Linked DNA regions of Homo sapiens: regions 1 and 2 are each linked to region 3. The links come from fine-mapping of genetic effects on gene expression. A gene starts in region 3. Each other region holds a variant in brackets. All regions are shown on one strand. Distances are from middle to middle. Region 1 has its middle 46 kb from the start of ARL5A. Region 2 overlaps CACNB4 (calcium voltage-gated channel auxiliary subunit beta 4). Region 3 holds the start of ARL5A (ARF like GTPase 5A).

Region 1 (10,712 bases), 46 kb before region 3:
ATAGGGTTAAATAAAATCCATCTTCTGAGACTTTCTGTTTGTACTGTGTGACTTCTCTGACCCCTTAGGTAGGGATTTAGACAAGAGAGAAAAATGGTCAGAGTTTAGTCCTTGGTATGTTTTGGTGTCTGGGTCTTGCTCTGTCAGCCAGACTGGAGTGCAGTGACACAATCATGGCTCAGTGTAGCCTTGACCTCCTGGGCTCAAGTGATCCTCCCACCTCAGCCTCCCAAGTAGCTGGGACTACAGACACATACCACCATACCTGGCTAATTTTAAAATTTTTTTGTAGCAACAAGATTTTTCACTTTGTTGCCCGGGCTGGTCTTGAACTCCTGAGCTCAAGTGCTCCTTCCACCTCAGCCTCCCAAAGTGCTGGGATTACAAGAGTGAGCCACTGTGCCCAGCCTGGTTTGCACTTTGAGATGCTCTGTTGGCAGACTCCTCAGCAAAGCCTGCTGCCTGCTGTGTCTTCCCACTGGTGCAACAAGCCTGTTGCTCTTTGGGTGTCCTCTGCTCTCCTGTCTCTTTGGGGCTCTGGGAGACACAGGCTTTTGCATATTCACCTCACTCCTGGTCCAGTGTCCTTACTCATTCATCATGGGCACTTTAGGTCTTTCTGCTGTTCCAGATGTTAACAGGTGAATGAAGTCTCATAGTCACCGTATCAACCAGTGGGTACGGCAGCTTTCAGAATAAAACTTTCTTTCTCCAATTCTTTGCATTGTGCTATTATCTATCAACTGGCATATATTGAACACTAGGAGGCTCCAGACCTGCCCTGTCCAGTACAGGAGTCATTAGCTACTTTAGGCTATGGAGCACTTGCAAGGCACCTAATACAAATTGAGATGTGCTCTGAATGTAAAATACACGATGGATTTTGAAGACTTAACACAAAAAAAGTAAAATATCTCAATAATTTTTATACTGATTACATGTTGCAGTGGTAACATGTTAGATATATTGGGTAATTAAAATGTATTAGTAAAATTAACTTTATTGTTTCTTATTACGTTTGAATGTAACTACTCAACAATTTAAAATTACATATGTGGCACACATCTTACTTCTATTGGACAGCACTGCCCAGGACATGTTTATTCAAATGTCTGTTGAGTGCCTATGAGGGTTTAGTCACTAAGCCAAGTGCTAGCTGCATGATGGGGCTTATGAAGAAAATCAAAGCCTTTGCCTTCATGAAGACAGATAGTAATGTAAACACCCTGTGGGTTCTTGCCGGCTTCCCAGATAGAGCCAATTTATCAAGGCAGGGGAATTGCAATAGAGAAAGAGTTTACCACTGCACTCCAGCCTGGGTGAAAGAGTGAGACTGTCTCAAAAAAAAAAAAAAAAAAGAGAGAGTTCATTAGAGTGAATAGGCAACCTACAGAATGGGAGAAAACTTTTGCAACCTATCCATCTGACAAAGGGCTAATATCCAGAATCTACAAAGAACTTAAACAAATTTACAAGAAAAAAACAACCCCATCAAAAAGTGGGCAAAGGAAATAGACACTTCTCAAAAGAAGACATTTATGCAGCCAACAAACATATGAAAAAAAGCTCATCATCACTGGTTATTAGAGAAATGCAAATCAAAACCACAGTGAGATACTATCTCATGCCAGTTAGAATGGCGATCATTAAAAAGTCAGGAAACAACAGATGCTGGAGAGAATGCGGAGAAACAGGAACACTTTTACACTGTTGGTGGGAGTGTAAAATAATTCAACCATTGTGGAAGACAGTGTGGTGATTCTTCAAGGATCTAGAACTAGAAATGCCACTTGACTCAGCAATCCGATTACTGGGTATATACCCAACCCAGTGGATTATAAATCATTCTACTATAAAGACATGCACACGTATGTTTATTGCGGCACTATCCACAATAGCAAAGACTTGGAACCAACCCAAATGCCCATCAATGATAGAGTGGATAAAGAAAATGTGGCACATATACACCATGGAATACTATGCAGCCATAAAAAAGGATGAGTTCATGTCCTTTGCAGGGACATGGATGAAGCTGTAAACCATCATTCTCAGCAAACTAACACAGGAACAGAAAACCAAACACCACATGTTCTCACTCGTAAGTGGGAGTTGAACAATGAGAGCACATGGACACAGGGAGGGGAACACCACACATGGGGGCCTGTTGGGGGGTGGGGGGCTGGGGAGGGATAGCATTAAGAGAAATACCTAATGTAGGTGACGGGTTGATGGGTGTAGCAAACCACCATGGCACATGTATACCTATGTAACAAACCTGCATGTTCTGCACATGTACCCCAGAATCTAAAGTATAAAAAATAAAAAAAAACCTAAAAGATTCAAAGAAACTAGTTAAAAGGCAATAGCAGTCATCCAAGCCAAGTGTTGATAACTTATACTAAGGTGGTAGCAGTAGACATGCTCAGTGGGGAAGTATGTTTCACCTGTCCCCAGTCTTCCAGTTATCTGGGCTCAAATAAATACAAAGACAAGAAAATGTAAATAAATTGATAACGAGGAGAAGCTCAGCTCTCTCTCTACTGTTTCCAAGGAGCTCCAGAGAGGAACTTACATTTTCCCGGTGATCTCGCTCACCCTCGCTCCTGTTCCTTGCTCTAAACTCTGTACTTGATTCTCTGTTCAGCTTGCTCTGAATGTGACCTTCCCGTGCTAATACAAGTCTAGGCGGTGCTAATACAAGTCTAAGGAAGTAGTAAAGCTTCACTGAAGACTAGGGAAAAGGTAACAAAAAACCAGAGTGTGAAAGAGAAAACAACCTTTACTTCATCATCCAACAAGCCTGTTGGCAAAGATCACTTTGGCCATTTCCTCCTCTCTCCTTTTCCTCCAGTTCCAGGGTCCAAACTCCTTTTCTTGAGTTTCAAAGAGAAAATGTAAAAGTCTCCCACCTTCTTACTCAGAGCCAGTTAGTGTTACTGCCCTCTTTCTCTTGACCTTACATCCAGACGCAGCTGGGGCTTTGCCTTCTAGAAGTACATGGCCCCAAAACAGAAGGATACATTTTCCTTGGTCGAGTCCCTTTAACATGAAATCATCTGAAATTAGGTTTTTAAAGAGAATTTTCTTTTTCCCACATTGGTATGACCTCATTTAATCCTCATATGAAGTGGATGTTGTGAAGCAGAAAAGAGAAGCTAAGAGAGGTGGCAGAGTAAGTTGCTCCAAATTATATAACAAGATCAAGAGAAGATTCAAAACTGAATCCAGCTGAAACCCTGGACCCATCACCACCAGCCTACACCACCTCCCCTGCAGAGATGGGCCCAAGGGCAAGGTCATTATTATCTCCTCACAGCACCACCACCTACTCCCTCTCCCTTTTGGAAAGCCACTTTTCACCTTGATGACTAGAAACTCAATAATAAATTTTGCAGAAATTGTATAACCAAAACCGCATTCTAATTTAGTGCCATTTTTCCTCTTAAGGTTGTTATTGTTGTTTTCTCTAAAGGACAATTATCTGTGTGCCCAGGAGCTGGTAAGTCACTCAAATTTATTCTATTTCAATAAAAAGCAATAGTCGGCCGGGCGCGGTGGCTCACGCCTGTAATCCCAGCACTTTGGGAGGCCGAGGCGGGCGGATCACGAGGTCAGGAGATCGAGACCACGGTGAAACCCCGTCTCTACTAAAAATACAAAAAATTAGCCGGGCGCAGTGGCGGGCGCCTGTAGTCCCAGCTACTCGGGAGGCTGAGGCAGGAGAATGGCGTGAACCCGGAAGGCGGAGCTTGCAGTGAGCGGAGATCGCGCCACAGCACTCCCGCCTGGGCGACAGAACGAGACTCCGTCTCAAAAAAAAAAAAAAAAAAAAAAGCAATAGTCACCTATGGAGATCCCAGGTGAAATTGTAACAGAATTCTTTGAATTCTCCTAAACAAGGAAGAGACGGTCAGAGTTCAGAACACTTCCTCTAAGTAGGCAAGGATATACTAGCATCTTAGTGGGAAATAGAAAACAAAAAATTGCAAAGGCTGTGGTGGTGGTGATAATGGTAAGAAGAAGAAAGAAGAAGGAGAAGGAGAAGGAAGAAAGGGAGGAGGAGAGGGAGAGGTAGGGGGAGGGGGAGGGGGAGGAATCATCAACATTTATTGTCACTTGGTGCAAGCAGGAGGAGGAAAAGTCATCAACATTTACTGTCATTTGGTGCCATGCACTGCACCAAGCACTTTACATTCATTGACTCATTTAACTCTCACATCAACTCTGTGAAGTTGTTCCTACTGGTATCCCCATTTTACTGCTGAAGAAACTGAGTCTCAGACAAATTTACCAACTTGCCCAAGATCACAGAGTCTAGATGTTTTATTTTTAAAACATATGAACTTCTGGAGCATTTTAGTAAGATAACCTGGACAGAAACATGTGAAGACTGGTCCTCAGAGCCTCTTCCAGATAACAGAACATCTAGAAAAGACAACATCAATTGGGTGTTACTGAGAATTGGTGTATGAACCAGATGCCACTGCCACACCTACTGATAAATTAATTAGGGCAGCAATTAATTTAGTTTTGGTTGCACCGATTTAATCATTGAATATTTATTCAAGTCATCACAGTGGAATGAATTTGGTTGATGCATTCATTTACTAATTTATTAATTCATTGATTAGCTGACACATGCCAGCTACTGCAAGGCACTGAGGATACAAAGATTCATGAGACTGTACCTGTCTTCAGGTCGTTCAGAGCCTAGAACGGGACCATAGGCTTGGCAGGGTGGGATTTTTCCTGTCTCTGCCCTCTCAAGCTGGCACCTTCAAGGCTAAGGTAATAGAAGGAGTCCTTGTGTATTGCCACAGAAATGCATTCTTAGCATCAGAGAAAGGATTGTGTCAGCAAGTGTGTAACCTTCCCCATTTGTTTTTCAGACTTTGTATTCTGAGGTCAGACCTATACGGTGCTTCCTTTTTCCTTTCTTTTCCGTTTTTAGGAGCAGAAGCTACCTTTCCTGCGTATCCAACAGGAGACCTGTGTGGAGCATAAAATGGAGACAGATGCATGTGGCTGAGACACAGCAGACAGCGAACCTTTGCAGGGGATGG[C/T]AGTGAGGATCCAGGAGAAGGGAAGGACCATCCAGGAGGGGAGAGAGGCCTTGAGAGAACTACACTTGGTGCCAGGTATTGGGGGGTGGCCAGGAAGGTGGTCCTGGGGAAGGAGCTGTACCCACAAATGTTTTACATCCAGCAAAATAACATTGTCCATCTTATTAAATAAATGTTGCTTCTTTGAATTGTATTGAATTTGTGGTGTTTAAAATTTAATTTGTAAACGTATTTTGGTTTAAACGTATCAGTAATAAATCTGATTTATAAATAAAAATATACTTGACTTTATATATACAGATAGTCTTCCCTTATCTGTAGTTTTGCTGACCGACAGACAACTGAAGTCCAAAAATATTATACACAATAAGACATTGAGAGAGACACCACATTCACAGAACTTTTATTGTAGTAAATTGTTATAATTGTTCTATTTTTTATTATTCATTTCTTACTGTGCTTAATTTATAAATTAAATTTCATCATAGGTATGTATGTCTAGGAGAAGCTTAATATATATGGGTTCCATACTATCCATGGTTTCAGGTGTCCACTGGGGATCTTGGAACATAACCCTTGCAGGTAAGGGTGCACTACTCAATGTACTAGGATGTGGAAATTTAGTAAAAACAACTCTGGTATTCATAGACTTATTTGAATAATTTTTCCATTTTCAAAATTACAGTATAATTAATATATAGTAAAACGTACCCTCTAGTGTACAGTTCTGTGAATTTCGACAAACATGTATAGTCGTGTGGCCACCGCTGTAATCAAAATGTCAAACGATTTCATCATCCCAAAAATGTCCCCCATGCTACTTTGTGGTTAACCCTGCCTATCACCCTGGCTCCTGGCAACCACTGATATGTTTTCTGTCTCTATAGTTTTGCCTTCATAAGAATGTCACATTAATGGACTTGCACATTATGTAGCCTTCTAAAAAACGAAAAAATCTTTGTTGAGGTATAACTGACATCTAGTAAATTGCACATATTTAAGGATACAATTTGGTGGTAAGTTTTGACATATGTAAACACTCATGAAACCATCATCACTATAAAGATAATGAATATATCCATCATTCCAGAATGTTTCCTCACACCCCTTTGTAATCCCAGCTCCCATATTTCCCTGGTCTCCCATTCCCACTAATCTGCTTTCTGTGACTATAGATTACTTGGCATTTTCTAGAATTTCATATAAATGGGATTATTCGGTATGCAATCTTTTTTGTCTGGCTTACATTCAGCATAATAATTTTGATATTCATGTGTCTTGTGTATCAATAGTTTGTTCCTTCTTACGGCAGAGTAGTATTCCATTGTAGGGACATAACACAATTTGTTTGTACTTGCATGTGCTAAGGGACATTTTTTTTTTTTTTTTTTTCAGTTGTGGACTATTGTAAATAAAGCTCCTATGAACATTTGTGTACAAGTCTTTGATTGGGCTTTTTTCACTTGGGTAAATACCTAGTAATGAAATGGCTGGGTCATACAATAGGCACAGGTTGAACTTTTTGAGAAGCTACTTATTATTTCCCTAATAACTAATGCTGTTGAGCATCTTCTCATGTGCTTATTTGTCCTCTGTATATCTACTTTGTTGAAATGTCTGTTCAGATCTTTTGCCTTTTTTTTTTCTTTGAGACAGGGTCTCTGTCTGTCACCCAGGTTGGAGTGTGGTGGCACGATCTTGGCTCACTGCAACCTCCCCTTCCTGGGCTCAAGCAGTCCTCCCACCTTAGCCTCCTGAGTAGCTGGGGCCACAGGTGCATGCCACCATACCCGGCTAATTTTTTCTATTTTTTGTACAGACAGGGTTTTGCCATGTTGCCCAGGCTGGTCTCAAACTCCTGGACTCAAGCAATCTGCCCACCTCATCCTCCCAAAGTGTTGGGATTACAGGTGTGAGCCACAGCACACTGTTCTATTTTTTTAATTGAGTTATTTTGTGATTTTTAGATATAAGTTCTTTATAACATATGTGATTTGCAAGTATTATTTGTTCCAATGTGTGGCTTATCTTTTGATTTTCTTATACACATCTTTCAAAGAGCAGAAGTAAAATAGCTCCCCCTCATCCAGGAGGAATACATTTCAAGACTCCCAGTGGATATCTGGAATGGTGGATAGTACTGAACCTTACATACTATGTTTTTTTCCTATATATAATACCTACGATCAAGTTTAATTTATAAATTAGGCATAGTAAGAGATTAACAATAATAAATCAGAACAATTATAATAAAATGCTTCTATAAGTTATGTGAATGTGGTCTCTCTCTATCTCAAACATCTTACTGTACGTAACAATTTTGGACCATGGTATTCACTGCGGGTAATGAAACCACAGATAGTGAACTACAGATAAGAGGAGACTACCATACTTAATTTTTATGAAGTTTAATTTTTTTTCTTCTTTTATGGCTCAAATTTTGGTTATACAGCTAACAAATCTTTGCCTAACCCAAAGTCACAAAGATTTTCTTCCGTGTTATCTTAAGAACTTTTATAGTTTCAAGTTTTACAGTTAGGTCTATATTCCATTTTTAGTTATTTTTGTATAGGTTACAAGATACAGAACAAGGTTCTTTAAAAATAGTTTGGGTGAACTCAAGTTTCAGAAACATTATAATGTTTTCTCAAGGCGCTTGGTTGAAAAGGGAAGGGAAGAATCAGGTAGTATCAAGAAGGAGGTATAACATTAAGAGAGTCTAGGATTTTATTTTTTTTATACAGCGGAAAAGTTGGAAATGTCTTAGATCACATAGACCACTCGAGGGGAAGAGATTGAAAAACCAATAAAAAAGATTCTCCTCATTACAATGGAAGCTCAACTTTGACCATCTTAATTATGATGACTACATTCCCAGCATCAGCACAGTGGCATGCATATAGTAGGTGTTCCATAAAATGTTATGGAAGGAGAAAAACAAGGCATGAATGCAAAAGGAAATGGAACTAAGAGTATAGTTATGGAAGGAGACTTGAATCAGCCTCAGTGACTAGAGAGAACAAACTCCCAGAAAATGAGCAAACGGAGATAAAATGGTAGAGAAGTCCAGGAGTTCACACCGCATAGCCTTTATCATCTTTTAAATTATGAAGCAAGGCTGTCTGCTGGGGATGGGGAAAGGAATATGGAGGAGACCTGAGGAGTCCGCAGCAATACCCCATGCGGGCAGGGAGGAAGAGCATCCACTGTGTGCTGAGTTAGGTGTTTCAGGAGACACTGTGCAAGATGGGATTCCCTACCATTCAGCCTTAAAAAAGAAGGAAATGCTGTCATTTGCAACAACACAGATGAACCTGGAGAACACTACACTAAGTGAAATCAGCCAGGCACATAAAGAGGACTACCACATGATCTCACTCATATGTGAACACTCTATTTAAGGGTGTTGCTACTTTGCAGGGCCAAGATCAGTGGTACCAAAATTTGAGAAATGGGAAAGAAGGAGGCAGGAGGTGGAGGGTAGGGAAGATGAATTCACTTTCTGACACACACATTACCTTTCAGACATCATCTGAACAATCACACAGGCAGCATGAATCTGTAGGTTACTAGGGTCTAAATAAACACTGAAAGGTCAAGGATGGAGAGGGAAGTTTGGTAAAACCCTGAGTGACTTGGGGTAGCAACAAGTGGGGGCATGTGATAAGGAATGTCCCACAATACAGAGGTGAAAGAGCAGTAGGCACAAATAAGAAAAGAAGAAAACAAACCTACCCTAATAGAAGAACCAAGCTTGCTACTGACATCTAATAAAAAGTGGAGATGCCCTGGCACTGACCTATTTCTTACAGGCCTTTAGGCTATTTCAAAAGTATGTATGTCAGGAATTTGATTACTAGAAGCAGAAATACTTACCTGTGATATATTTCTAACACCACATAAGCTATTTGTTCATAAATCTGTCCCACCAGATTAAGCAACTGGCAACATACATGGTTTCATTCTCTACATCCCTGACTGCTAGCAGTTTCTAAGTCAGAGTAGCTACTCAAATGTCTACTGACTTTTATTTTGCTATAAATAAAATTTTGCTATTATACATAAGAAGCCAAATGACACAATTTTGGACTCCCTAAGGGGGATGGGGTGAGGAGATACATACAGCATCAAAAGAATCATTTGTAGCTAAAATATTGTCCTCAGAAAACTGGACATGCACTTACTGATTTTTGCCCTGTTGATTGGTCCATTGAACGCTGTATAGTTCACTTGCGTTTCCATTGAGCCAAGGAGGGTAGGAACTCTTGACTGCTTTCAGGCCACTGGGGCTCCTGCATTTATATGCTTGACAGTCTTACACTGCGAGGAAACAGACAACTAACAAATGCCTCTGAAACTCATTTCTTATATGTCTGAAATGAAACGAGCAACGTAGGTTTAAATTCCAGACACCCAAATAATTTTTTTACCCCAAAAGATCTATCTCCAAGGAACTTCTCCAAAAAGTAAAGTAAAATTTTTAACAGTGTCACCTTTTTCTGAATTCCCAATATGGGCTATGCAAGCTGGTATAGCTACACTTTGAAGAAACAAATATATTGAAAAGAAAAAAAAGCACAAGGTTTCCTTTGACTTTAATGAGTAGACTTTCAGCTCATTTCCTTTAAAATGCTGCCCCTGAATTGCAAATTACTTCATGGTCTTTATTTAGTGAGCTCTCTTCCTAGACTGACAGAGCCAGCTGCAGAATTGTACTGTCTATGGAAATAATATCATCAGCACTTTGTCGCTGAATAAGACCACAATCATTACATTTGGCTTCTTTTCACACAGGAGGAACTGAATATATGCTTGTTTACAGCAACAATATTCAGAAAGTTATCACTTTTGTACTCTATCAGTTGGTAACTTAAAATCAAAGGAAAATTTAGCATGAAATACCTGAATCCCTTTTTAAGGTCATTTTAATTTTAGTACATTACTAATACTTAAACTATTAGCTTTTTTTCTAGGATTCAAAGAGCATATTAATTAATTTTGATATTCAGTCAGAGTAGAAAGTATTAAGAAATCAATTTATATTCATTATACATATTTATATTTCTTATCTTTTTCTGTTCCAACTTAGAAATAAAATTTTTGAGAACCACATTCACTGTGAAAAATGTTGTATAAATTTATGTGACATATTTTATTCAAGTGAAGTTCTTATCTAGCAAATATTAGAAAAGTAGCCCATTAAACTATAAATAATTTTAATTTGGCTCTCACCAAGTATGAAAATAAGCAAGTAATTTTATAATTTGAAAAAAGATTTTACATTTTCTTTACAAAATAACCACCACTCTCTCTGACACTATTTAATAAAAGCTTTATTAAAATGAAGCCAAAACATTAACACCATTTATATGTACAAGACCATTAAACATTTTTTCTATCTTTAATAAATGTTCTTCCATTTTTGTCATTTATTACTTTCCTAATTTGAAAAATTGATTAATGTGAAGAAACATTACTAAATTAAACAAATGTAAAGTTTAAATTTAATTATTAAATGGTTGAGTTTAAAGTTGACAGCTAGTTTAAGGTAGAAGACCTTCATAATCCAATTACTTTTACTTGGTTTCAGAACTACCCCTAGGCAAATTCTCCTAAAATAGAAACTACATGCAAGAAAAACACAAGCGA
Region 2 (10,712 bases), 230 kb after region 3:
GCACTACAGGCACATGCTACCATGCTCAGCTAATTTTTCAATTTTTTGTAGAGATAGAGTCTCACTATGTTGCCCAGGCCTGTCTCCAACTCCTGGGCTCAAGCAATCCTCCTGCCTCACCCTCCCAAAAGTGCTGGGATTACAGGCATGAGCCATCACACCTGGCCCTGCTCCAGCAAATTAACTGAACCCAAAATGAGGGTCATGGGAATCCCTCAGTTAGAAGTATAGGTAACAATCTATTACTTGCGATTGGCATCTGAAACTGGGGGAGAGGTGCTGACTGAGCCCTCAACATGTGGGATCTGATCCTGTCTTCAAGTAGCTAGTGTCAGAATTGAGTAAAATTATAGGATACCCAGTTTGCACCTGCTGGAGGATTGTTTGGTGTGTGGAAAAAACCCTCTACACTTAAGAAGTATTGTGTTGGCCGGGCGCGGTGGCTCACGCCTGTAATCCCAGCACTTTGGGAGGCCGAGACGGGCAGATCACGAGGTCAGGAGATCGAGACCATCCTGGCTAACGCGGTGAAACCCCGTCTCTACTAAAAATACAAAAATTAGCCGGGCGTGGTGGCGCGCGCCTGTAGTCCCAGCTACACGGGAGGCTGAGGCAGGAGAATGGCGTGAACCCGGGAGGCGGAGCTTGCAGTGAGCCGAGATCGCGCCACTGCACTCCAGCCTGGGCGACAAAGCAAAACTCCGTCTCAAAAAAAAAAAAAAAAAAAAAAAATAGTATTGTGTTGAGTGACTGTATGACAGTAGAGGAGAAAAATTGTTTATTTTTTCTTCAGACCATATTTTACTTATCCACTCATCAACTGATGACCATTTGGGTTGTTTCCTTTTTTGTCTATTACGAATAATGCTGCAAAAAACATTCTTGTATAGGCTTTTGTGTGGACACATGCCTTCATTTATCCTGCATATGTACCTAGTAGTGGACTTGCTGGGTCATAAGATAACTCTATACTTAACCTTTTCAGAAACTGCCAAACTTTTCCATGGTAGTTGCACCATTTTACATTCCTACCAGCAGTGTATGAGGATTCCAATTTCCCCATATTCTTGCCAAAAATTATCTGTCTTTTTTATTATAGCCATCCTAGTGGGTGTAAAGTGGCATGTCATTGTGGTTTTGAATTGCATTTCCTCCTGGTGACTAATGATACGGAGCACTTTTTTTTATGTGATTATTGGCCACTGGTATGTCTTCTTTGGACAAATGTCTATTCCTATCCATTGCCTATTTTTGAAACGTCTTTTCTACTGAGTCTAAAAGTTCTTTATATATCCTAGACACAAGTCCCTTATCAGATATAAGATTTGCAAATATTTCCTCCCAGTCTGTGGGTTGTCTTCTTTTTTGTTTTAAGACAGAGCCTTGCTCTGTCACCCAAGCTGCAATGCAGTGGCACAATCTCAGCTCACCGTAACCGCTGCCTCCCAGGTTCAAGGGATTCTCATGTCTCAGCCTCCCGAGTAGCTGGGACTATAGGCACATGCCACCACACTTGGCTAATTTTTGTATTTTTAGTAGAGACAGGGTTTCACCATGTTGGCCAGGCTGGTCTGGAACTCCTGACCTCAAGTGATCGGCCTGCCTTGGCCTCCCAAAATGCTGGGATTACAGGTGTGAGCCACCATGCCTGGTCTTCTTCTTACTTTCTTGATAGTAACCTTTGAAGCACAGAAGTTTTTAATTTTGATGAGCTCCAAATTATTCATTTTTTTCTTTGGTTACTTGTGCTTCAGTGCCATATCTTAAGATCAACTTTAAACAAGCTTTTTTCAGCTTGTATTGTCAGTTGTAGGCATTGATTCTTTTCCACTTTAGCAGCAGGGCCTCTCCTTACCCTGACTCACTCACTTATGGAGACATGGCAGACCACACAGCCCACAGGCAATGCAAGACATGAATGGATTTGCACACCCCACTGAGTCCTGCTGTGCTCTGATTATCACTTTGATTATTACTGAACACTGCAAAGTCTAGATAAGGCTTTTAAGCTTCTGGAGCCTTTCAGAATTGTTAATTAATCCTTAAAATAGCTTTGAAGGCTGATTTCCCCCCTGATTCTAAGAAGATAATTAAGAAGCTATTGCCAAGACAAATAACTTTTTTCGGAGGAACTCTAACCTCTGAAATTTTCAAACTTTGACTACTAAGGAGGAAGGAGACAGAAACTGGGCAAAGTGTGACAAAGAGCAGTCAAGGCACAGCAAGTGAGTGGCGACCGAAGCTCAGTATGTTTATATCCTCACTCGCCTGTTACTATCATCACCTCCTCACATGGTTTCTACTCACCACCACGCCCCTGTGACTACCCACCACACTGAAGCCAGAAGGACCATATTTAAAAATCTGGTTATACCAATTGGTTCATCAATACCCGCAAGATTTTTTAGAAATTAGATATTTTCGGCTGGGCACGGTGGCTCACCCCTGTAATCCCAGCACTTTAGGAGGCCAAGGCAGATGGATCACGAAGTCAGGAGATCAAGACCATCCTGGCTAACACGGTGAAACCCCGTCTCTACTAAAAATACAAAAAATTAGCCAGGCATGGTGGCAGGGCCTGTAGTCCCAGCTACTTGGGAGGCTGAGGCAGGAGAATGGCATGAACCCAGGAGGCAGAGCTTGCAGTGAGCCAAGATCACGCCACTGCACTCCAGCCTGGGTGACAGAGTGAGACTCTGTCTCAAAAAAAAAAAAAAAGAAATTAGAAATTTTCAGAAATATCGTGTCCCCAAATGCTTTGTCAGTTTATCCGCTACAATTATCTCCCATGTTTCACACACTCAAGCCTCATCAACTTTCTCCAGGTTTACTAAAACCACTGCACTACTAGAAACTCCTTTGCTCTGGAAGGTACCTTCCTTCTGCTGCTCACACGGGAAGACCTAGACATGCCACCCCCTAGTGACGTCTTCCCAGCTTTGCTAGGCAATTAATAGACTCTACCTGTGTGTGATGCCCTTGGCATTTTCTTCATAGTTCTATTATTATTATAACCCAGATGGCAACTGGAATCATGCTGCTCTTTATGCTCCAGTTACCACTGCTTGCACCACAACTCCACATCCTGTGGAAAATTTAGTACCCATTCAGGATGTCTGAAATCCCTAGACAATAAGGCGAGAATGGTGATTATCCTATGGATACTGTTACCTCCAACTTTCTGCCCTCATTGACTTCTTGTTCTCTGCTATGTGTCTTGTGACTATCCCTTACTTTTACAAACATAGACCTCAACTCCTTATGCTGATTTCCACTGAAAGCTCTGATAGCAAGCCTCTAAGATGGCCCCCAAAGATCTCCACCTCCCAGTATTCCTAGTCATGTACAATCCTCTTCTCATGAGTAACCAACAGAATACGGCAACATTGAGGGATGTCACTCCCCTAATCAATACAAAAGATAGTGATTGTCATCTTGTTATTAATAGCAGACTCTCTCTCACTGGCTGGAGGTCCATGTATTAATAGTAAGGAACTTAGGGTGGTCTCCTGTCAACAGCCAGCAAGGAACCGAGACCCTCAGTCCAACACACCTTAAGGAACTGAATGCTGTCAAAATCCATGCAAATGAGCTGAGAAGCAGATCCTTCCCACAAATCCTCAGATGAGACCCCAGGTCTAGCTGACACCCTCATTGCAGCCTTGTGACTACAGGTGATACAGAAGACACAGCTGAGCCATGCTTAGATTCCTAAGCCACAAAAATTAGGAGAAAACAAATGTGTGTTATTCATGCAACAATAATTAAGGAATACAAAAACCTAAAAATAAACAAACTGCCCCTTCACTTGTGACTTCTGTGTATACAGAAGACTTTATTCATGGGCTAGGGAGACAGGGAGGCTTTACATTACAAAAATCCTAAAAGCACAAAACTGAATACCGGACATTTAGTCTGTAAGAATCCTTTGGCCACTAGATTGTATTACTCAGTCTCTCCCTCTCACTCCCCTTCTATTCCATGACACCCATTTCAGGTTTTAAAATATGTATATACATACACACATGCACACACAGAGGCATATGCACACGCACAGATCTTCAGCAGAGACTTTGAATTGAACTGACCCCTGAAAAGTCCTAATGAGGTACACTGACAAAGTCCCATTCTTCTCTCTAGTCTCTGCCTATGGCAGGCAGAGGGAAGGAAACTTTTATTTTTCCAAGGACATACTATAATACAACTTACCATGATGTTTGATATGGTTTGGCTGTGTCCCCACCCAAATCTCATCTTGAATCGTAATCTGCATAATCCCCATGTGTCATGGGAGGGAGCTGGTAGGAGGTGATTAGATCATGGAGGCAGTTTCCTTCATGCTATTCTCATGATAATAAGTGAGTTCTCACAAGGTCTGATGGTTTTATAAAGGGCTCTTCCCACTTTGCTCCTCACTCTTCTCTCTCCTGCCACCATGTAAAAAAGGTCCTCACTTTCCCTTTGCCTTCCTCCATGACTGTAAAGTTTCCTGAGGCCTCCTCAGCCATGCAGAACTGTGAGTCAATTAAACCTCTATCCTTTATAAATTACCCAGTCTCAAGTATTTCTTCACAGCAGTATGAAAACAGACTAATACAGTAAATTGGTACCGCAAAGAGGGGGGTACTGCTATAAAGACACCCAAAAATGTGGAAACAACTTTGGAACTGGGTAATGGGCAGAGGTTGGAATAGTTTGGAGGGCTCCGAAGAAGACAGGAAGATGTGGAAAGATTTGAAACTTCCTAGAAACTTGTTGAATGGTTTTGACAAAATGCTGATAGTGATATGGGCAGTGAAGTATAGGCTGAGGTGGTCTCACATGAAGATGAAGAATTTATTGGGAGCTAGAGCAAAGGTAACTCTTGCTGTGCTTTAGCAAAGAGACTGGCAGCATTTTGCCCCTGTCCTAGAGATCTGTGGAACTTTGAACTTGAGAGAGATAATCTGAAATTGGAACTTATGTTTAAAAGGGAAGCAGAGCATAAAAGTTTGGAAAATTTGCAGCCTGATGATGTGGTAGAGAAGAAAAACCCATTTTCTGGGGAGAAATTCAAGCTGGATGCAGAAATTGGCATAAGTAACCAGGAGTCCAGTGTTAATATCAACAGAATGTGGAAAATGTCTCCAGGGTATGTCAGAGACCTTCACAGTGGCCCCTCCCATCACAGGCCCAGAGGCCTAGGAGGGAAAAATGGTTTCATGGGCTGTGCCCAGGATCCCCCCTGCTGTATGTAGCCTCTTGGTGCCTTTTGTCCCAGTCACTCTAGCTGTGGCTAAAAGGGGCGAAGGTACAGCTTGGGCCATTGCTTCAGAGGGTGCAAGTCCCAAGCCTTGGCAGCTTCCATGTGGTGTTTGTCCTGTGGCTGTGCAGAAGACAGGAACTGAGGTTTGGAAACTTCTGCCTGGATTTCAGAGGATGTGTGGAAATGCCTGGATGTCCAGGCACTTGTGTGCTGCAGGAGTGGAGCCCTCATGGAGAACCTCTGCTAGGACAGTGCAGAAGGGAAATGTGGGGTTGGAGTCCCCACACAGAGTCCCCCACTGGGGCACTGCATAGTGGAGCTGTGAGAAGAGGACCACCATTCTCCAGACCCCAGAATGACAGATCCACTGACAGCCTGCACTGTGTGTGTGCCTGGAAAAGCTGCAGACCCTCAACGGCAGCCGTGAAAGCAGCCAGGGTGGGAGCAGGGGCTGTACCCTGCAAAGCCACAGGGGTAGAGCTGCCCAAGACTGTGGGAGCCCACCTCTTGCAATAATATCACCTGGATGTGAAACATGAAGTCAAAGGAGATCATTTTGGAGCTTCAAGATTTAATGACTGCCCTGTGGGATTTTGGATTTGCATGGGGCTTGTAGCCCCTGTTTTGGCCAATTTCTCCCATTTGAAATGGCAACATTTATCCAACGCCTGTATCCACATTGTATCTTGGAAGGAACTAACTTGCTTTTGATTTTACAGGCTCATAGGCAGAAGGGACTTGCATTGTCTCAGATGAGACTGGACTTTGGACTTTTGGGTTAATACTGAAATGAATTAAGGCTTTGGGGGACTGTTGGAAAGGCATGATTTGTGTTTTGCAATGTGAGGACATGAAATTTGGGAGAGGCCAGGGGCAGAATGATATGGTTTGGCTCTGTGTCTCTACCCAAATCTCATTTTGAATTGCAATCCACACATGTCTAGGGAGTGACAAGGAGGGAGGTGATTGGATCTTGGGGGTGGTTCCCCCATGCTGTTCTCATGATAGTGAGTGAGTTCTCACCAGATCTGATGGTTTTATAAGGGGCTCTTCCCTCTTCACTCCTCACTCTTTTCTCTCCTGCCACCATGTGAAGAAGGTCCTCACTTCCCCTTCACCTTCTGCCATGTTTGTAAGTTTCCTGAGGCCTCCCAAGACATGTGGAACTGTGAGTCAATTAAACCTCTTTCCTTTATAAATTACCCAGTCTTGGGTGTTTCTTTATAGCAGTGTGAAAATGGACTAATACAATGTTATATAATTAATTGCTTACACATCTATCTCCCACACTAGACTGTTTTTCAAGGAAAATGACTTGAGTTTTATTCATCTTTATAGCCTTTGGTGTGTAGTAAAAAGTTAATCAACAGTTGGGATTCAGTAAA[T/G]GTTTGCTGAATGTTGATTCATTTCATACCATTACATTAAAAGATTTAAAATTATTAATGCATTATTAATTCACAGGAGAACCACTGCTGAGCTACAAGTAAAACTATGCTATAATGAGGTCTTCAGATTTTTTAAATTAAGCATACCTCCTTTGAATAGGTTCAAGGAAAACTACTGCTCTGATAAATCCAATGTTATAGCATGCTATGAGGCTCAAAATGTATCAAGGACTGTAAAAAAGCATACAATCTACATTATTAGCTATTCCACAACTCATGTCAAGGGGTGAGGGAGCAGTGTACATTAGATTTTCAACTTAGAAAACAACTGCCCAGGAACTCCAACTCTATACATTTATCATAAGAAAATAAAACATCAGCATCAAGAAAATATAAGATATTGGAAAACCAAATCTCCAGCAACAGGGGCAAGTTAAATACATCACGGTACATCTACACATCAGATTAACAGTGATGAACTAGATCTTATTAACTGGAAAAGATGTCTACAATACAGTCTTATATGAAAATATCAAATAACAAAACAATACATAAATTTTTGTAAAAAAAAGCATTGTCTATATCTATGTGTGCATATACACAGAAAATATGAAAAGATGTAACAAAATGTTAATATATAGCAGTTGCCATATTATAGGTGATCTTTATACTTTTCTGTGTTTCACAGATGTTTTGCAATGAACATATATTTCTTTTTAATCAAAAATATTTAAAACTGGCTGGGCAAGATAGTTCATGCCTATAATCCCAACGTTTTGGGAGGCTCAGGTGGGAGGATCTCTTGAGGCCAGGAGTTTGAGACCAGCCTGGTCAACATAAGGAGATCCCGTCTCCACAAAAAATTTTTGTCAATTAGCTAGGCATGGTGGCACATGCCTGTAGCCTCCCAGCTACTCGGGAGGCTAGGGTAGAAGGATTGCTTGAGCCCAGGGGTTGGAGGTTGCTGTGAGCTATGATCGTGCCACTGAACTCCAGCTTGGGTGACAGAGCAAGATCCTGTCTCTAAAAAAAAATTAATTTAGTTTTTAAAAATATCTGAAATTTTTAAAATAGAGAAAAGAGGTAATTAGTATTGTCCAAATTTAGCAAATGATTACTAATTGAATATTTACTATAGTAACATCTAGACTGCAAAAATAACTCATGTAATCTATCACATTTTACTTTTAAAAACAGCTTTAAGTAAGTAGGCTTATTTGAGCCTCCCAAAACTTTGTGAAGTAAAAAGAGCATATTACATCAATTTCATAGATCTTAAATGACTTGCTCAAGTCATAAACCATGTAAATTCAAAAATCCAAATCTAGCCACTGTGATTTCTGCTTCTCAAAGCAAAAAAAAAAAAAAGTTATGAATGTTTCCAGATATGACTGTCATCTCAAACAGTAGAATAAAGAATGATCATGTAAATAATGATTAGGGGCCAGGTGCAGTGGCTCACACCTGTAATCCCAGCACTCTGGGAGGCCGAGGCAGGCGGATCACCAGAGATCAGGAGTCCAAGACCAGTCTGGCCAACATGGTGAAACCCTGTCGCTACTAAAAATACAAAAATTAGCTGGGTGTGGTGGCACACACCTGTAATCCCAGCTACTCGGGAGGCTGAGAGAGGAGAATCACATGAACCCAGGAGGCAGAGGTTGCAGTGAGCGGAGATCGCGCCACTGTACTCCAGCCTGGGTGACAGAGTGAGATTCCATCTCAAAATAATAATAATAATAATAATAATAATAATAATAATGATTAGGAATGCTTTCTGGATTTCCTGATACCCTGAGTAATTCTTTTTCAGCAAATACTTAAGATTACTAGATAAATTCACTTTCTATGTACCTTATTGTGAAAATTTCCCCTAATTTTTGGTTAACTACTCATTAATTCAGTGAATAAACACATGCTAATACATGGAATTCCTAATGCATTACAACAGATAGAAAAAAAAACTAGCTAGAGAGTTTAGGAAAAACAGTATTCAGGCAGCAAAGACTGTGAACATCCCCTCAGCCAGAGGCCAGTCCAGTCACACCACTGAGTTGACACCGCCATTGAGTTGAGACCAACACTTCACTGACCACTCTTCTAAATCATTTTATTTCATTTTTGATCCAGTCTCTCTATGTACTGTGTCAGTTGCATAAGGATAGTTGCTTTAAACCACCAGAACAAAGAAATTTCCAGAAAAACAGCACTTCTGACAGATACATGCATTCCTAAAGCAAGCCAAGGGGGTACATACACAGAATGGGCAAGATCTCTGTGGCTAAGCCAAACTGGAAACCACCTAGACCTAATCACCTCCCCATCTCAATAGTGGAAGCAGCTCTTCACGGAGCACTGAACGTGGAACGGCTCTCTTTCCACCAGCTTTGGAGCAGCTCCTGGCCTCTCCCATCATGGCAAGACAGAGCCTTTGCCAATGACAGACGGGAAGCATTTGGCAGAGGACACGGGAGGAGAGGGAACTTCCTTAAAGTCTGGCTTTGCACAGACCTGTGTAATGCCAAATTAGGAAGGAAACAGAGCAGAAGACAAGACATGAGGTGTGAACTGTGAGCAATTTTAGACAGAAAGGCTAGCACTTCTCTGAAATTAGCATATCAACTTTTGGACAAGAAAATGCCCCTTGGGACTCAGATTAGCTTTAGGGTGTGGGCCAGACATCCACGCAGAGGAGGATCAGCAGATGAGTCAGAAGCATCCAGATGGACTTGGACAGAGACAATTCCCTCAGCTGCTCCATACTAAGGAATTCACTAACCTCTTAGGGAGAAGGGATTAGATTCCATTCCAGACATATCGCAATGTCACTGGGAGTTTATTGCACATATATTGGTAATCAGTTAACTGTTCAGTGAACTGTACATAGATGATTCTACAGTGTAAATTTAGTTATTCTCAACCAGTTTAGATAGCCTCTAACAGTTCCAAATCTGTTCAAAATCATTACAAAATACCCAATTATAGGAATTGGTAAATTAAAGATAACAGCCAACACATACTAAATGCTTACTATGTGCCAAGCAATGTTATTAGCCTGTTATTTTACATCTATTCATTTATTAGCTCCATTATGCAGATAAAGAAACTGAGGCAGAGAGTGATTAATGTGCCCAGGGTCCCACAGTTAGAAAACAGCAGAGTCAGAACCTGAACCCAGGCAATCTTGCTCTAGAGGCTGTTTGGAAAATCACACTGCACCAAGCCAGCTCCAGCCTGTGCATGCAATCAAGCTCCTGGGGTTCTCAGCAAATAAACCAGGTAAACAGCACTCCTCACAGATTGAGGTTTGAAGAGTTTTCTGCATATTACATAATTTCAAGAAGCCTGTGTTAATATTAACACTTGCAAAATTTAGACCAAAGCAAACAACTTAAATTCTACAGAAGACACATAAGTAATATAAGTGAGTGAAGCACACTGGCTGTGAGGCGGGGGGCAGGGTTAATGAGGACCAAGAGGGCAGATGCCTACCTAAAAGAGGCAGCCACCCATCAGCTCCGAATGTCTTCCTAGAAGAATGAAAAGCCAGTTTTGCCATTCCTCACAATTTTTCCAGAAAAGTTGAAAATTCAGACTCGTGTACAAAATCCCCCAACTTTCAAATCTTGGCAGTCATTCAAAATTATTTTTTTCTGAATGATGAGCCAAACAAAACCTATCTGCCAACACAGGCTGACACCCCTGTTCTAAATTCATTGTAATTCTCAGCAGACAATGTAATAACAGTCTTGTGAATGATAGAGTACTGGAAATTAACAGAAGTTCTGAAATGTTAGGAAGACAGTCTTCAATATATAACTACACACAGAGGTTAGTTTAGGTCTAGCTATGTCTAACGGTGAGTACATGGGTCCAAACATCTCTTAAAATTCACATTGTTGAAGTGCATGAAGGGAGCCATGGACATCTGAATCGGATGTCTCCCACGTGGACTTTGGCAGCCCAGGGAGAAGGCAAAAACATTTGCTGGAGTGCAGGAAGAAAATATTCAAGTCTCTATTTCCATATTCAAATCTATATTTTATTCTTTAATATTTCATTTTTGTATATGCACCAGAATG
Region 3 (10,712 bases):
ATGCACAAGAATCATCAGAAGTTTACTGCTTAGTATGATTTTTCTTTTAGACTATGTCACAGCATTCCTGTATTTACTCAAATAAGCCACAACAACTGCACTGTTCTAATGCTTTGATGGAACTGTGAGTTACCAATTAGGCTTTAACATACCAATCAATACTTTACTGTTTTGTCATGAAAATTGCTTCTTGTTTCCCTTTTCCTTCATTTCCTTTTGACACAGGCAGTCTACCAGTTCCATTCATTGCCAGTTTTTAAAAGTTAATATATATTCCCCCAACTCATCAGTCAATAAATTAAGCATAATAATAATTGTTATTGTAGAGAATTACTATCTCTGTGAATCATACAACATCAGAAAACACAAAAACACCAGGGCAAATAAATGGAGAGTCCTCTTGATTCATCATTTTTACCTCATATCTGAACTATCACTAAGCCCTATTAATTCTATGTCTCTCAGAGCAAAAAATTCCATTTGTCATATTCACTATAGTTCTCTTAGTCCATAGGACAGCTCCTGGAATAAAGCATGAGCTTAATATTTTTCATGAATAAATAAATCAGATCTGGAAAATATAAAGGTTAGGAGAGAGATATCTGCTTAAGTCGTTTTGTATTAAAAGTTCAATTTTTAAAACTTAAAAGTCTTAACAATAAAAAGAAAGTTTGAAAATAAACTTGCTATTACAGTAATGGTAAATTAAGTTTCAGGGGAATAACCAAATTTTCTTTTGCACTATGAGGTTGCTGAAAAAAAAAAGCAATGATTACACATGGCAAAATTAGAGATCCAATCAGGAGGCAGAAATCACACAATAATTTGAACTTGGAAAGTTCAACATCAAAAAAATATTACAGGGGACTGGAGTAATGAGAGATTGGCTAAAAGATTATGGGAATGTCAAATTTAAGAAGCACTCACTATCCCTAGGGTTGAGATAAAGGTCCTCCCCCTCCCTCCAGACTTAAGATGCAGATCTCGTTGGAGGGCACAGATAGTGGCTCACTGAATGGCAGAGAAGTAGCTGTGGTGAGGTGCCAGTGGAACCTGCCCAAAAATCCTCCCTCTTCGGTGCTGAGGAAAACTGTTTATTGAGAGGTATTTCACTGGAGACCTTCCATTATGAAACCAACTAAGACGGGTACTAGGGGAAGCTGTTGGCTGCTGCTGACCACTATGCAGTACAAGAGCCAGGCCTTGGAGACGGTGTTCATGCTACAAGCAGAGCCCGTCAAGAAAGCACACTATAACTAAGTACAAACACCCTTTCCTCCTACAATGCCTCTCCAGTGCAGCCTACTGACAAAACTTAACATTTTGCCCAGTGGCAAAAGAAAAACGTTTAAAGGACCTAGCTCCACTTCCACAGAGCATGCAAAAAGGGTTTACAAATGGTCTCTGACTTGTGATGTTGTAAAAGCAACACACATTCAGTAGAAACCATACTTCGAGTACCCATGCAAAGATTCTGTTTTTCACTTTCAGTACAGTATTCAATAAATTACACGAGATATTCAACCTTTATTATAAAATAGGCTTTGGGTTAGATTTTGCCAACCTGTAAACTAACATAAATGTTCTGAGCACGTATAAAGCAAGCTAGGCTAAAGCCATGGTTTTCAGTAAGTCTGGCATATTAAACTCATTTTTTACTTACTGTATTTTCAATTATCTATCTATCACAAATTATCAACTATCACAAATTGAGGAGCATCTGTATTAGAAGCTAAGACACAGTCTACCCCTTGGCTACTCAGCTTCCATATGTACTCTTCTCTACACATTTAAACTCCCTAATAATAATAATAATAATAATAATAACAACAATAATAAGCCAGAAACAGAGGTGGCTTCCTCAGCATCAGGTTCCTGAAGCACAGGCAGCTTCTCCTGCACCCATTCATACTTATAATTCCTTTTCTAGCAACCAACCAAGAGAGCAATACAAGGCTATTAATGAGGAAATTCCACAACTTCTTTTATAGTTCACATCAGTCAGTTCTTTTTATCTGAGTCCTTCTTATACAAAGTCCTTCTTACACGAAGTTGTGTGCAAATGTGCGTGCGTGCATGTGTGTGTAGAACTAACTCTGGCACTAGATAATCTTGTTAAAATCCAGGTGTGTGTGCGTAGGAGAAATAACTCCGGCACTACGTAATCGTGGTTAAAATCCAGGTCTATCACTTTTACCTATAGTGCTTAAAGCAAGTTACCTGTTTCCGTACCCCTGTAAAATAAGGGGAATAATATCTACCTTGTAGGGTTGTTGTAAAGAGTAAATCAACTAAGTGAATATTAAATCAAACAACCTGTGTGAACCTTGCACAAGTGTTAACCACTATTATTTTACTTGTAGAGACAAAGTGAGTTAATTTCCTGTCTCCCAACACTACATGAAAGCTCCATAAAGGCAGTGGAATTTGTCTGTTTTGTTCCCTTATCCCACCATGTAGAACACTTCCTGGACTAAATAGGTGTTAAAATATTTGTTTATTGAGAACAAGTAAACCACTGATCACAAGCTCTTCTATAAAAAAAAGTTACTAATGGCAACTTTTCGAAGTTCTAAAGACAACTTAGAGATTAGCAACTGAAAAAGTTAATGGGGGGAGGAGGAGGGAGGGAAAAATGATGTCAATCTCTTCTTTAAGAGATTCCTTCAGGGTTTTAACTTGCCTGGCTCTGGCATATACCAGTTGCATGGCCTGGGGAAAAAAAATCATTCCACTTAAGCCTCAGTTTTCCCTTTTCAGGGGAAATAACTACTTCAAAAGATTGTTAAAACATAAAATAAAATAAAATAAAATGATTTAAATGACAGCATCTAGGATAAAGTTTGTACTCTACTGAATCTCAGTATCAACTAAATGTGACCTCTGGTTTTTCTAGTTCGAGCGGTATACAAATAGCTTTCACTGTGCACTCAATCTGAGCTTTAACTGAAAAAGCTGTTCTCGAGGGGTTTCAGAAACAGGAGATACTGCATAGTTTAAGTTTCATCAGATGGCAAATTCTGTAATCTCCCGAAACATACTTTCCAAGAGTTTCTATGAAAAGAAAGTAAGATTGCATTCTGAATCCACTGAAGGTAAAACAAGAGCATCCAACACATATCTAACTTATATATGTCCTATACAGAAAAAAAAAAAAACAACCCTGCTGGGCACCATGGCTCAGGCCTGTAATCCCAGCACTTTGGGAGCCCAAGGCGGGTGGATCACGAAGTCAAGAGATGGTGACCATTCTGGCCAACGTGGTGAAACCCCATCTCTACAAAAAATACAAAAATTAGCTGGGTGTGGTGGCACGCACCTGTAGTCCAGCCACTCGGGAGGCTGAGGCAGGAGAATCGCTTGAACCCAGGAGGCACAGGTTGCAGTGGGCCAAGATCACACCACTGCACTCCAGCCTGGTGACAGAGCAAGACTCCATCTCAAAAAAACAAAAACAAAAACAAAACCCAACAAATATCTGGCATTAGATTAAATGGTGGATATTCGGAAAAGTGACCCTATTGATAAGACAGCCACACTGTTTAGCAGAAAATAAATAATTTATTCACACTTTCACAATATTCATATCTAATTTTCTAGAACTTAACTTCATTAATTTCTCTATTAATTTCCGCCAAACTGCCATAAATGTCCCGTCAAAAATTACCACAAAATACAGGTTATAAAAACACTACTATTAGCAATTTGTAGTGATACCAGAGCACACACCCTTATTATTTACTACTCCAAGGAGCTGTTGGCAAAGTTCTCATTTATTCTTAACTTACAGAAACAAATAATTTTATCATTGACTCAAAATAGAAAGTGGTGATAACTCTTTTTCTGGCAGCACTAGAGCTCAATTCACAGTCTTGCTAAACCTCACAGCAGATGAAACACTAGCTTTGCTAAAAATAATACAAAATGATGGATGTTAAAACTAGAATAGATCTTATCTACTATAAGTACCATCAGTCTTACAGCAATGTACGTTTTAATATTTGCAATGTAGAAATAAAGTTTACAAGATTTGGAAGCTCCACAGATCCCTGGTGTTCTAGGTGAGAAAACCTAGACCAGAAAACCTGAGAGTTCAAGTGACTGCTTCCCACTCTCCTGCTCCCAACACTAACAGCCAGTCCAGTCAGAGACAGTGCTGATTAGAACTGATTTTCTCTACTTTATGAAAAATCCTCTTATCAGAAAAATTGATACTGCCCTTTCTTTCGGTATCACGTGACCTACACATCTGTGTGTGTGTGTGTGTGCGTAAAAGATACATTAGGGATCACAAGTTCTAGTTCTGCTTGCTTCCCCTAAGCTTCTTAAAAGAGCAGCTAGATCATGAAGGAGGAGGTGGTAGTAGTAGGTGTACATAATAGATGCCACCATTCACGTAAGTCTTTATTGGAAAACTGGGACGTGACACCATCAGCTTACACAACAGAAAAACACAAACTAAGTTCCTGACAGCGGAATGATGAACCACCCAACTTGAGTTAAAAAGAAACAAAAGTACACCACTGTATCTTAATAAGTATCCAGTCTTTGGGTTAAAATTGTATTCTCTTTCCCCAGTTTTAGTCATTTTGTAACAAATTTTAACAAGCCTGATAGGTATTTCATGGCCATGTCTGAAGTTGGCTGAACTTAAGCATCCCTATATAACACACTTTACACTTAGTAACTTGCTAGTTACCTATGGTTAACAAATGTTTCATATGGTATGTTTTTAAAACTTTCAGTGAAACACTTTAACATTTTTAACCCAGCAAAACAAACAAAAACTGTGTCTAATAACCCACACGAGTAGAAAAATGACCTTAAGCTTAACCTTAAACACAGATATAATAAGTAAAACAAATGGAGAGAAGTCCATCTCTATTCAGGAGGCAGAAGAACCCCCCCTGCCCCCAACACACACAAAGACGGGTGGCAGTGGAGGGCAGGCTCATAAACCAGAGGTGTAATGGACAAGTCGAGCGATTCCTCCCGTTTTCCGCATTCTGCAACCCTCGGTCGCTCAGTGGTGCGGTTAGGGCAGCAATCTATAACCTTCATTCCAGAAGACCCCAGCACTTCTATGTGGTGTCCAAACACAACTGGTGAGCAAAGAAAGGGCTGAAAGACAGGCCAGGCCGTGCTACTCAGGGACGTCGGACCTAGGGCAAGAAACCTTTACCACTCTCATTCGAAATCGGAGCAATGGGTCTATTACGGAAAAGACTTCTTAGGAAGGTCTCCTAAGACAAAGGGCTGCGAGTCAGGAACCATCCCCAAGCTCGGGAGCCGGGACCGAACCGTCCCGGGCCCGTATCCGCGCAGCCTGCACCCCGCGCTGAGCTGGCGCCCGACCGAGCCGCCCACATTCCGAAGTATTCGGAGACCCCCACCTAGCCGGCCCGAGCTGACCCTCTCCCCAACCCGTACGCCCGCGGACCGAGCTCCTCACCCTGGTGATTGAACAGTCTCCATATTCTAGTGAAGAGAATTCCCATTCTCGGGCAGCGGACCCCCCCCCTCCAGACACCCGGGCCGCCTGGCTTCCCCCGGCTCAGGCTGAGGGGGAGGAGAGAGACGCGCTGGAGCCTCCGCCTCTGCTGCTGCTCCCGCGCTGGTCGCGGGCCCGCTTCCAGGGAACCGGAGGGAGGCCGAAGCCCAGGCCGCCCTGCCGCGCGCAAGGCCCCGCCGCTGCCGCCGCGGCACTCGCCTGGCTCGCGGACATCGCCGCCGCGTTGTCTGCGACGAGCCTCGCGGGCCACCGTCCTCCCCCAGCTCCTCTCGGGCGGCTGCGGTGGCGACGACCACGCGGGCGGGGGAAGTGAAGGGGCGGGCCTGGAGGGACGTGAGTGCGCAGGCGCGCGGCCAGAGGGGCGGAGCGTAGGAAAGGGCGCCCGCCCTGTCCTCGCTTATTTGCATAACCAAGACTGCGGAAGGCGCAGGACTTTACCCTGGGACTGAGGCTGTGAAGACCGCAAGTTGGGGCAGATGGCTTCCGACTGCTTGCTGTTGCGTCCCCGAGTATTTATATTTCCCTCGAATCTTCTCCACTGCGCCATAATGTAAACATATAATTGAGTACCCCATGTCCATCCCCAACCCTTCACATACACTACACTTAAAGTTCCACGTCATGACTCTTTAAGACATTGTGTCCCCTGTGGGTCTTTGAGGGAAAAGTCTGCTGCCCTCTGACACTCAGCTGAAGTCAGTGGCCTTACCTAGATAGTCACCTTAAAGCCATTTTTGCACTTCAGGGCTCTTTTCTCTCCAATCTCTTAACTCTCACGTCAGTATTGCCCAAAACAACGATTTTGATCAAGTCACTACCCTGTTTAAAAACCTTTAGTGGCCACCAAAGCTCCATCCCTTTCTGTTCTCGTTAACCTTAGTAAAAAGGAAAATAAAGAAAAATTGGGAGACTTGTAGGAGCCATTTGAACTGCTTTGCACTCCCATCCCCAACAGCTGAATGAAATTAAGCAAAATCAGCAATAAACCGCACCTTCCCAACTCACTTCTCCTAACTACCCAGTATTTTACCTCAAAATATAGAAAAGTAATTTCGTTGACTTCTTTTGGGGCTTTATGGTTAAAAAGCCAAAGTTTAGAGGAGCCATACATGAAGGGAAGGAAAATCATAGTAATCCATATTAATTTATGTATTATCATGTCTGGATTTACTTAATATTCTGTACACTGTTTAGAAGAACAATGTAGTTTGTATAACCAATTTGCATTAACTCTGTAATATTTCCATTCTCGCACACCGTAGGTAATGCTTTGGTAGCTCTAAGACTTTTTCAGACTCCCACACAGATGTCAACTTATGAAATGGATGTCATATACACATTATGTGATGGCGGAGCTTCATATTTTACAATCTACCCAAGGAAATGGTCTCCCAGGTTATTTTCCGAGTGAAGAAAGAAGAGAGAGAGAGAGACAGAGACAGAGAGTTTAAAGACCAATTTATCTATGATTACAGAGAAATGCAAAATGTCATTGGAGAGACTTCTGACTTCAGGCATGAGAGAGTAGGATGGTTTGAATATATCCTCCTACCATTAGCAAATAGAAAACTGCACAAAGTACAGGCAACGACATTTCAGATATTGAAAAACACATCACAGTACTGTGATTCTTTGCAAAAGAGAAAGGAACAGGTGGAGTCTTACCATTTCCTGGACTTTATCCCTAAAAGCAATTCCCAGTCAACTACGGAGGAAGTGGGAACCCAAATGAGAATCTGGAAACCTCTTAGAACTGAAGACGCATATCAGCATTCCCAGAGATCAAGGTGACTAGAATTTGTGAAGCAGAGTAACTGGAAGGAGGGAGCTACACAGAGAAAAGCTCTGGAAACCTGTTAAGGGGCCATTGAGTCTTTGGCTGCATATCAATTTGTGCTCGTGCAGTATGAACCCCCAAGAGGCTGGTCAGTCACAATTCCTGAGGAAAAATAAGTACCAGGAAACTGTAATGCAAATGATTCCCAGAGATTACAACGGGTCAGGAATCATTTGAGTTCCCTTCAGCCAGAGTGAAGAGAACTGAATATATAGGACAGGGGTGTCCAATCTTTTAGCTTCCCTGGGCCACACTGGAAGAAGAATTGTCTTGGGCCACACATAACATAAGCTAACACTATTGATAGCTGATGAGCTAAAAAATAAGTAAAATCACAAAAATACTCATAATGTTTTAAGAAAGTTTACGAATTTGTATTGGGCCACATTCAAAACCATCCTAGGGCCGGGTGCAGTGGCTCACACCTGTAATCCCAACACTGGGAGGCCAAGGTGGGCAGATCTCTAGAGGCCATGAGTTCGAGACCAGCCTGGCCAACACAATGAAACCCCGTCTCTACCAAAAATTACAAAAATTTGCCGGGCATGGTGGCGCAAACCTGTAATCCCAGCTACTCTGGAGGCTGAGGCAGGAGAATTGCTTGAACCCAGGAGGTGGAGATTGCACTGAGCCAAGATCAAACCGCTGCACTCCAGCCTGGGTGACAGAACAAGACTATCTCAAAAATAAATAAATAAATTAATTAATTAATTAATTTTTAAAAAGCCATCCTGGGCTGCATGCAGCCCACAGGCTGTGGGTTGGATAAACTCGATATAGTTGAGTGGACACCACCAGAGACCTTAGAAGAGGAGCTAACTGGCCTAAGAATAAGCCCTACACAAGACCAATCCTAAAGGAGCTTAAAACCAAACCTTGAAAGGGCCAAACTAATTCACAATTGCCTGCCAAAACAAGTATAACATTCTTTAAAGGAATATGAGATCAAGTCATCAACAATGTAAACTTTACATTGTCCTAAATCCAATAAAAAATCACTAGACGTGCAAGGAAACAGGAAAATGTGATCCATAACCAAAAGCAAATCACTCTACAGAAATACCCAGGCATGGGGACATTAAGTGATTGCCCCAAGTTCATGGCTAGTTATTGCTGGATCTGGGCTTTGAACCCAGACAAAGGTTAGATCCACACTCAAACCACTGTGCTAATCTGCATGTTGTATCAAAGTACAAATGAGATGTTTCTCTCCCTCGTACATTTTATTATTGGAAATGTGCTGATGACAGGAGAAGTAGCTTCAGGCATATGGCTGGTAGATGAGTTTCAGATTGTTGGCTGAAATACTTTGATAGTTGAGACAGCCTTATATAATACCTCTCCAATAACTGAGGTACTATTCATTCAGTCAACATTTATTGTATTCCAGGCATTGTTTTGTATGCTTCAGATGATTACCTAGCTTAAAAGTAACATATCAGTACTTTTTTTTTTCTTTTTCTTTTTTTTTGGTGGGGGGATGGACTTTCGCTCGTTGCCCAGGCTGGAGTACATTGGTGCATCTCGGCTCACGGCAACCTCCGCCTCCCGGGTTCAAGCGATTCTCCTGCCTCAGCCTCCCGAGTAGCTGGGATTACAGGCATGCGCCCTCACGCCCGGCTAATTTTGTATTTTTAGTAGAGACGGGGTTTCTCCATGTTGGTCAGGCTGGTCTCAAACTCCCGACCTCAGGTGATCCGCCCGCCTAGGCCTCCCAAAGTGCTGGGATTACAGGCAGGAGCCACCACGCCCGGCTATGAGTACGTATTTTTAAAGAAAAATTCTTGGCTGCGCGCAGTGGCTCACGCCTGTAATCCCAGTACTTTGGGAGGCCGAGGCGGGCGGATCACCTGAGGTCGGGAGTTTGAGACCAGCCTGACCAACATGGAGAAACCCCGTCTCTACTAAAAATACAAAATTAGCCGGGCGTGATGGCGCATGCCTGTAATCCCAGCTACTTGGGAGGCTGAGGCAGGAGAATCGCTTGAACCCGGGAGGTGGAGCTTGCCGTGAGCCGAGATCGCACCAGTGCACTCCAGCCTGGGCAACAAGAGTGAAACTCCATCTCAGAAAGAAAAAAAAAAGAAAAATTCTTTTGAGAGAGAAGTTTCAGTGAACTTTGGTTTCCTCATTTGTATTTGTATCTCATAATCCATGCCCGGCCTACTTTCCTGGGTGATCAGATGAATTAAATGTGATAATTGTGAAATAACTTGACTCTAATAAATCACTGTATAATCCTAATGCAGTGATAAAAATCAACATAGTCCATATTTCTTTGGAATCTCCTATACAGTGAAATGACAAAAAAGTCAAATTCCAATCAAGTCTTAACATAGACAATTGACCCCAAATACATACTATGGAATTCTTACAGGTACAAGATAGCTTTGGAAATGTCTGATAACTGCAATATTAATCATTTTGGAGTGGATGACTTGCGAACAATATAATACTTCATCTAGTATATTTTTCTATATCCAATCCTATTTTGCACATGTATTCGAATGTATTTTATTTCACATGTGTGTGTATTTAACTTATAAACCCTTTCCTAATACAGTACTTATTTTGTGATCACTCACAGCACCTGGCAGAGTATTCAGAAAGTAGTCATTTGATTGAATCCCTTTTTAGGATAAATGTTTAGACTTTTTCTTTTTTTCATAAAAGAGTACCTATTGATTTCCAGTATTTCTTCAATATATTTCTAGAATAATATAAAGGAGAGGTATAACGCTGGTTTCAGTGTTTTTTTCATTTATTATATAAAAGAAAAAAAGTAATGCAGTTGTTTTGTACACATTTAAATTCCATAAAACAAATCCATAGAAATGAGGATACTCTATGCATGCACTCTGCATTTTCTTTGTTAATGTTTTTATTCACAAAAATAACACCACGTTTTTTTCTTTAAAGCCACTAAAGCAGAGGGAGAACAAAACATGCAGCACTGTACACATTTGCATAGTATATTTTACCCAGCATGCCTTGTAGAATGCTACACATACCTAGATAAGAAAAATAAAAGGGGACAAATTATTAAAATAAATAACTAAAATTTAAAGAAAGAAAAAAAATTATTTGACAAAGGCATTTTTTATCCCACTTTGTCAATGGAGATATAGCAATAGCCTGGGATTTCAACAGCCCTCAGAATAGTAGGAAAAATCTTTTTACATCATTTTGCCATATTTCTGTTTTAGTATGTTTTATGTTAATACATTTATTTTTTATTCCTTCCCACCATCCCTACAAAAACACAGCTAATGGCTTTAACTTATGTTTCAAAGTAGTATTCAGTACAAAACAAATTAAAGAATCCCTAACTAATATAATTTTTTGTGGTTGGGACATCTTTAT

What was found. PIP is the estimated chance that this variant, and not a neighbour inherited with it, causes the effect.
Region 1: its variant is the best candidate, but not a certain one, in a credible set for the expression of ARL5A in blood mononuclear cells (TOPMed, PIP 0.64).
Region 2: its variant is the best candidate, but not a certain one, in a credible set for the expression of ARL5A in lung (TOPMed, PIP 0.55).

What each region holds. Positions count from the first base shown.
Region 1 is chr2:151,776,921-151,787,632 of GRCh38, forward strand. No RefSeq gene overlaps it. Among named protein-coding and RNA genes, the nearest start is that of ARL5A, 46 kb to the right of the region's middle. RefSeq lists an enhancer at 5,735-6,029. The variant C/T (reference allele first, on the strand shown) is at 5,064.
Region 2 is chr2:152,053,658-152,064,369 of GRCh38, forward strand. The region is part of intron 2 of CACNB4 (calcium voltage-gated channel auxiliary subunit beta 4); the gene reads right to left. Among named protein-coding and RNA genes, the nearest start is that of CACNB4, 40 kb to the right of the region's middle. RefSeq lists an enhancer at 72-573. The variant T/G (reference allele first, on the strand shown) is at 6,631.
Region 3 is chr2:151,822,679-151,833,390 of GRCh38, forward strand. ARL5A (ARF like GTPase 5A) reads right to left here and starts at 5,743. Exons shown (of 6, transcript NM_012097.4): 1 at 5,453-5,743. The coding sequence starts at 5,498. It overlaps CACNB4 (calcium voltage-gated channel auxiliary subunit beta 4), which reads right to left. Exons shown (of 14, transcript NM_000726.5): 14 at 10,093-10,712. RefSeq lists enhancers at 1,145-1,204, 6,019-6,068 and silencers at 5,359-5,408, 5,459-5,968.